2 linked regions of the Homo sapiens genome follow. The protein of the gene in region 1 interacts with the protein of each later gene in a biochemical or structural test. Each region holds a gene or a part of one and is shown in the gene's direction. Other genes may lie near its edges. The genes, in order: SYMPK and CSTF2.

Region 1 (3,816 bases):
CCGAGTAGCTAGGATTACATGTGCCTGCCACCATGCCTGGCTAATTTTTTTGTATTTTTAGTAGAGATGAGGTTTCACCATGTTGGCCAGACTGGTCTCAAACTGCTAACCTCGGGTGATCCACCCGCCTTGGCCTCCCAAAGTGCTGGCATTATAGGCTTGAGCCACCGTGCCCGGCCGTGTTCAATATATATTAACTGATTATTTTTTCTTTTTTTTTTTTGGAAACAGGTTCATCAGGTTCATGCTCTGTTGCCCAGGTTGGACTACGGTGGCCCAATCATACTTCACTACAACCAGGCTCAAACAATCCTCCCACCTTAGCCTCCAGAGTAGCTGGGACTAAAGGTTCATGGCACCATGCCTGGCTAATTTTTTTTTTTTTTTTTTTTTTTTTTTAGATGGAGTCTTACCGTGTCTCCCAGGCTGGAGAGCAGTGGCATGATATCGATGCCCAGCTAATTGTGCATATGTCTAGAGATGGTGTGTCGCTGTGTTGCCCAGGCTGGTTTCAAACTCCTGGCCTCAAGTACTCTTCCTGCTTCAGCCTCCCAAAATGTTGGGATTATAGGCATGAACCCCTGCACCTGGCCTTCTTTTTTAGTTTTTAGGCCTAGGCTAGTCCTGAACTCCTGGCCTCAAGCCATCCTCCCACCTAGACCTACCAAAATGCTGGGTTTACAATTGTGAGCCACTATACCCGTCCTATTTTTGTTTTCTTTCCTTTCTTTGTTTTTGTTTTGTTTTATTTTTGAGACAGAGTCTTGCTCTGTCATCCAGGCTGGAGTGCAGTGGCGCAATCTCGGCTCGCTGCAACGTCTGCCTCCCAGGCTCAGGTAATTCTCATGCCTCAGCCTCCCAAGTAGCTGGGATTACAGGCATCCATCTCCATGCCCAAGTAATTTTTTTGTATTTTTAGCAGAGACTGGGTTTTGCCATGTTGGCCAGGCTGGTCTTGAACTCCTGGCCTCAAGTGATCTGTCCACTTTGGCCTCCCAAAGTGCTGGGATTACAGGAGTGAGCCACCACACCATGCCCTTTTTTTTTTTTTTTTTTAAAGACTTGTCAAGTGCAGTAGTGAGAAAGGGGGAAAAAGTAGAACAAGTATAGCTATTAGGATTCAAGAGTGAAAGGGCAGGAATACTGAACCCAGTGATTGGGGAGGCCGTTTGGCAGTAGTGTTCACTCATTCAGCAGATGTTTATTGAGCTCCTGCTAGGTGCCAAGCACTCTTCCGTGCTGGGAATATAAAAAGTGAAGGAACAAAATCCCTGTTCTAGGCCGGGGGCGATGGCTGAGACTTGTGATCCCAAGCACTTTGGGAGGCCAAGGAGGGTGGATTGCTTGAGTGCAGGAGTTCAAGACCAGCCTGGGCAACATGGCGAAACTCTGCTTCTACCAAAAAATGATTTCAAATAAATAAATCACTGTCCTCGTGGAACTTATAAATATGTAGTGTGTGATGATGATAAATGCTATGGAGAAAAAGCAACACAGATGGGGATCGAGAGGAAGTTAAAATTTGAAATATGGTCGTCGGCCGGGCGCGGTGGCTCATGCCTGTAATCCCAGCACTTTGGGAGGCCAAGGCGGGCGAATCACCTGAGGTCGGGAGTTCGAGATCAGCCTGACCAACATGGAGAAACCCCGTCTCTACTAAAAATACAAAATTAGCCAGGCGTGGTGGCACATGCCTGTAATCCCAGCTACTAGGGAGGCTGAGGCAGGAGAATCGCTTGAACTTGGGAGGCAGAGGTTGCTGTGAGCTGAGATCACGCCATTGCACTCCAGCCTGGGCAATAAGAGGGAAACTCCGTCTCAAAAAAAAAAGAAACATAGTCGTCAGGGAAGACCTTACTGCAGAGACATGTGAGTGGAGACCTGAAGGAAATGAAGAGGGAAGGAGTTGTGCTGATATCTAGGAGGAGGAATATTCCAGGCAGACGGAAGAGAGGCACAAAGTCTTTGAGGAAGGGGCATGTTGGGCATGTTCACAGGACAGCGAGGAGGCCAGAGTGGGTGGAGCAAAGAGCCCAGGGGGAGAGGCAGTCAGAGGAAGAACAGGCCAGATGCCATAAAATCTTGTAGGCCTTGATGGGGACATTGGCCCTGACCCTGAGCAAGATAGGGGGTGACAGGCAGCAGGGAAACTAGGGAGGAGGCTGTGGCTCGTCATTCATTGAGGAGACCCCTATCATGTGATACTACTGTGAATAGCTATTGGGTAGTTCCTTTTAAAAAACGTGTCATTTTCGGCTGGGCGCTGTGGCTCACACCTGTAATCCCAGCAATTTGGGAGGCCAAGGTGGGCAGATCACCTGAGGTCAGGAGTTCGAGACCAGCCTGACCAACATGGTAAAACTTCGTCTCTACTAAAAATACAAAAATTAGCTGGATGTGGTGGCACATACCTGTAATCCCAGCTACTTGGGAGATGAGGCAGGAGAATTGCTTGAACCTGGGAGGGTGGAGGTTGCGGTGAGCTGAGATTGTGCCATTACACTCCAGCCTGGGAAACAAGAGTGAAATTCCATCTAAAAAAAAAAAAAAAAAAGTATTTTCGGCTGGTTGCGGTGGCTCACGCCTGTAATCCCAGCACTTTGGGAGGCCAAGGCGGGCGGATCACGAGGTCAGGAGATCGAGACCATCCTGGCTAACATGGTGAAACCCCGTCTCTACTAAAAATACAAAAAATTAGCCGGGCGTGGTGGCAGGCGCCTGTAGTCCCAGCTACTGGGGAGGCTGAGGCAGGAGAATGGTGTGAACCCAGGAGGCGGAGCTTGCAGTGAGCCACGATCACGCCACTGCACTCCAGCCTGGGCGACAGTGCAAGACTCCATCTCAAAAAAAGAAAAAAGTATCATTTTCACCGTCCTCAGATTATTGTTTTTTTGGCATGTTTGTTTGTTTAGTGTGTGTTTTTTTTTTTTTTTTTTTTTTTTTGAGACAGAGTCTCACTCTGTCGCCCAGGCTCGAGTACAGTGTTGTGATCTCAGCTCACTGCAAGTTCCGCTTCCCGGGTTCATGCCATTCTCCTGCCTCAGCCTCCCGAGTAGCTGGGAATACAGGCGCCCGCCACCATGCCCGGCATATTTTTTTGTATTTTTAGAAGAGACGGGGTTTCACCTTGTTAGCCAGGATGGTCTCGATCTCCTGACCTCCGTGATCCGTCCGCCTTGGCCTCCCAAAGTGCTGGGATTACACGTGTGAGCCACCGCACCCAGCCTTGTTTTGTTTTTAAGACAGTCTCATTCTCGTCCAGGCTGGAGTGCAGTGGCGTGATCTCAGCTCACTGCAGCCTCTGCCTCCCAGGTTCAAGTGATTCTCCCACCTCAGCCTCCCAAGTAGGTGGGATTATAGGTATGCGCCACCATGCCTGTCTAATTTGTATGTTTTTAGTAGGGAACAGTGTTTCTCCATGTTGGCCAGTCTGGTCTCGAACTCCTGACCTCAGGTGTTCTGCCTACCTCAGCCTCCCAAGGTGCTGGGATTACAGATGTGAGCCACTGCACCTGGCCTGTTTGTTTCTGAGACAGGGTGTTGCTCTGTCCGCAGGCTGGAATGCAGTGGTAGGGATCACAGCTCACTGCATCCTCCACCTCCTGAGCTCAATTGATCCTCCCACCTTAGCCTCCCAAAATCCTGGGATTACAGGCGTGAGCTGGCCAAATTATTATTAATTATCATAATTGTTGTTAGCAGTTTATGCAGTAGCCTTCAGATCTTTTCCCATGTACATAAAAATAATAGTATACTTAGCCAATGTTTACTGTATATACTAACTCATTTAATCCTCAAAATAGTCTTGGGAGGTAA
Region 2 (3,816 bases), on another chromosome or scaffold:
ATCTTGCCTTCCAGATTCAGTGCAGTTTCTTTTATGTTTTGCTTCTGAAACTACATTTATGTTCTTTGCATAACTAGAAGATTCAAAACTATCCTTTTTATATATTTTTTTCCTAATGATTTCATAAGGAGACCTAACGGAAAACTAGTAGCAGAGGTGAAAATCGAAAATGTCAGGTTATTCCCACCTAGATCAAACCAGTGCCCCCATGGGATTCCCTTTCAAAAGCTATCTGGTCAAAATGGAACTATTTCAGAGACCCAAAGGAGCTAGTGTAGTTTAGGGAGATTTTGTAGCCTGGAGCAAGCCGATGAACTCTTGGCTTTTTAACTTATATATGTAAATCTCAATCTCCATGTGTGTGTGTTTCTGCGTGTGTATGCAAGCTATTTTAAGTGTCTGCTCTTTCTCCTTTTGAACTTACTGCTTACCTAGGAACCCTACAGCACTCGCCCGTGGGACCCGCCGGGCCTGCATCAATTGAGCGAGTTCAAGGTACCCATTGTATCTGTGGGTTTCCTTTTGCTTGTGGTGTTCAGGGTGGGACGTTGAGAGGAAAAGAGCTGCGTGGCAGTCATCCTCGCGTTCAGAACCCAAAAGGGTAGTGTTTTTGGGTTTTTGTTTTTTTAATTTTTTCCTGTTGAGGCCACAAGCCTAAGATTGACCTCTTCACACAGGGCAGAGAACATGGATGATATGGGCATCTGTCCGAGGCTGTACTCCCTCCCTACTGGTGTCAGGAGGCTTGGATGGAATAGCAGTCTGTAAGGAGACAGCGGGTTCTTGCAGAGCCATGGCAGTGTTCACATATGCCAAGACTCTACCTCTGTTTTGTGACTCTGGTCCTTGAACTAAGATTGATTAGAAGGAAAACCAGGAGCATAAGTTTCTCCAGGTCGCAGTGCTAGTCCTTGGCAGGTTGCTCCCCAGTTTGCTCTTTATATAATTCCATCCATACCTCTGACATGGCACAGATTCTGCCTACACCCTGCTTCTGTTCTTGAGCTGCAAGAGGATTCTGCTGTGGTGAGGTTTCACCCACTCTAAGGTGTCTGAATTATGTTGTCAGTGGTATATAGAGTCATTTCTTGTTTGCTTATGTGTCTTTCACAGCAGTAACTCCCCGTTTGTTTCCCTGTCAGTGCCGATGCAAGACCCCAGAGCAGCTATGCAGCGGGGATCCTTGCCTGCGAATGTCCCAACCCCTCGAGGCTTGTTAGGAGATGCTCCGAATGATCCACGGGGAGGCACTTTACTTTCTGTAACTGGAGAGGTAGAGCCTAGGTAAGCACTAACATAGAAGGAAACAGTTGAAGAAATCAGAATTGTCCCTTCTTCCCTGAGAACAAAATCTTTCTGTACCAGTTGTACCTGTTTGCCTACTTCAAAAGGTAGATCAATATTCATGGCCACTGTCCAAGGGTAAGCACTTCTCCTAAGGCAGAACTATGTACTTGAGTATGTCATTTTGAGCTATTATATTTTTAGAAATTGGAAATTTTAGTATACATACTTGAACAGGGAAATTTATAGTAGTGGAAATATTAATAATAGCAATAATAGGCCGGGTGCAGTGGCTGACGCCTATAATCCCAGTACTTTGGGAGGCCAAGGTGGGTGGATCACTTGAGGTCAGGAGTTCGAGACCTGCCTGGCCTACATGGTGAAATCCCATCTCTACTAAAAATAGAAAAATTAGCCGGGCGTGGTGGCGGGCGCCTATAATTACAGCTACTGGGGAGGCTGAGGCAGGAGAATCGCTTGAACCCAGGAGGTGGAGGTTGCAGTGAGCCGAGGTCATGCCACTGCACTCCAGCCTGGGCAACAAGAGTGAAACTCCATTTCAAAAGTAAATAAATAAATAAAATAATGATAGTAATAATAATTGACATTAATGGGGATCATGCCTCTGACTCTGCTCTGAGTACTTTACTTAGATCATCTTATTAAATCCACAAGATCCTGTGAGATGGATACCATTATTAGTCCCATTTTACACGTGAAACTGATGTGTGGAAAAGTTAAATAATGTGTCCAATATCACACAGCTAATAAGTGATAGAGCCTAGATTTGAACCCATACAGTCTGAATCCAGAGCTCATGTTCTTATGCATTGTTCTGCAAACTCATACATATAATGAATATTCGTTGATTCCTCCCTAATTATGAACCAAATAACGAAATTCTAGAATACATGGATTTATATCTCTGTAGCTTTTCTTCCATCTATTTGGTGTTATTTTCTTGTTAGTATTCATAGACTACATCAGCTCTTTGTTGGATGTTTACTTACTGATCTGGTTGGTACTTTGTTGTTGTTTTGTTCTATTTTAAAATACAACGTTTTTCTCCATCTCCAGAGGTTACTTGGGACCACCTCATCAGGGTCCACCCATGCACCATGTCCCTGGCCATGAGAGCCGAGGACCACCCCCACATGAACTGAGGGGAGGGCCATTACCCGAGCCCAGACCTCTAATGGCAGAACCAAGAGGACCCATGCTAGATCAGAGGGGTCCACCCTTGGATGGCAGAGGTAAGGGGAGATCACATTGCAAATGCCATAATGAACTCAACTGTCTTAGGCTCTAATCTGGGATAAAGAATGCTGGAACAGTAGGTTTGCAAGCATCTTTAAGGTTTATCCACAAATCTGAGAAACTGGGGAGGAGACAATAGTCTCATATGTTAATAGCTGAGGGGACAAATGTGACTAGAAGAGATTTCTATCTTTCTTGGATTGTTCATCATTCTTGCAGTACATGCAAGTAGCTACATAATGGTTTTGTTACATTTTTCTTTATAGGTGGAAGGGATCCCCGAGGAATAGATGCACGAGGGATGGAGGCCCGAGCCATGGAGGCAAGAGGGTTAGATGCCAGAGGATTAGAGGCCCGTGCAATGGAGGCCCGTGCGATGGAAGCTCGTGCAATGGAGGCCCGAGCGATGGAGGCCCGTGCAATGGAAGTCCGAGGGATGGAGGCCAGAGGCATGGATACCAGAGGCCCAGTGCCTGGCCCCAGAGGACCTATACCTAGTGGAATGCAGGGTCCCAGTCCAATTAACATGGGGGCGGTTGTCCCCCAGGGATCCAGACAGGTATGTGTAACACTGACTTCTGGCATCCAAGTGAAATCTTGATCTATTCAGGAATTGATTATTGAGCCTAATTATTACTGCCTTCTGACTTGGGCTGTTTCTTAGCTTGTTAGAAAGGGAAGACTTGGATCTCCCTGTAGCTTCTCTGTCCCTTAGGGTGGTGATTTTCTGGCTATCAGGATTGTAGTTCAAAAAAAAACAACCTTATCCCACAATAAATAGCTATTCATTTGGAGCAGAGCCCCTGAAAATTTAGGGGTTAGAAAGTAGTCTTGATTGGGGTACAAACCAACATCATGTACACGGTTTTTTCCAAGATATACTTGCCCGGATCTCATCCGAGGTATAACTCAGAATCTCTTATTAGTAGGATCTGAGCATGGATAGTTTGAAAAACTTCCCCCAAATGATTCTAATGTGAACCCTGACTGGGAACCACTGGGTTAGAGTATATGAAGAGCTGTTAGTGGCCATTTAGATAATCTTAGGTTTAGAGAGACCTGTGTTAATTTATTGTCATCACATAGCCTAAGTGAACAGTGGAATGTGAAAGGCAGTTTATTAATAATCACCTTAAAAGGTGTGGAACCGAAGTCTTGTCTCCTCTCTTTTATTTGGATCTCTCTGCCTGTGTGTACATGCTCCCTCTTCATCTCGACTTGGTTGTGGAGAGGTGGTATGTGTGTTTCTTCCGTGAGTTTTTATATGCTGGCACC

Evidence for each region.
Region 2: the proteins of SYMPK (region 1) and CSTF2 form a complex in vitro, tested with the Homo sapiens proteins (one study listed by BioGRID).

Annotation. Positions count from the first base shown.
Region 1 is NC_000019.10:45,856,537-45,860,352, reverse strand, and holds part of SYMPK (symplekin), read left to right. Parts: intron 1-3,816. UniProt on the Homo sapiens protein: Scaffold protein that functions as a component of a multimolecular complex involved in histone mRNA 3'-end processing. Specific component of the tight junction (TJ) plaque, but might not be an exclusively junctional component. May have a house-keeping rule.
Region 2 is NC_000023.11:100,830,373-100,834,188, forward strand, and holds part of CSTF2 (cleavage stimulation factor subunit 2), read left to right. Parts: intron 1-435; coding exon of another isoform or gene 436-495; intron 496-677; coding exon of another isoform or gene 678-850; exon of another isoform or gene 851-1,136; intron 1,137-1,142; coding exon 1,143-1,284; intron 1,285-2,361; coding exon 2,362-2,537; intron 2,538-2,807; coding exon 2,808-3,100; intron 3,101-3,816. UniProt on the Homo sapiens protein: One of the multiple factors required for polyadenylation and 3'-end cleavage of mammalian pre-mRNAs. This subunit is directly involved in the binding to pre-mRNAs.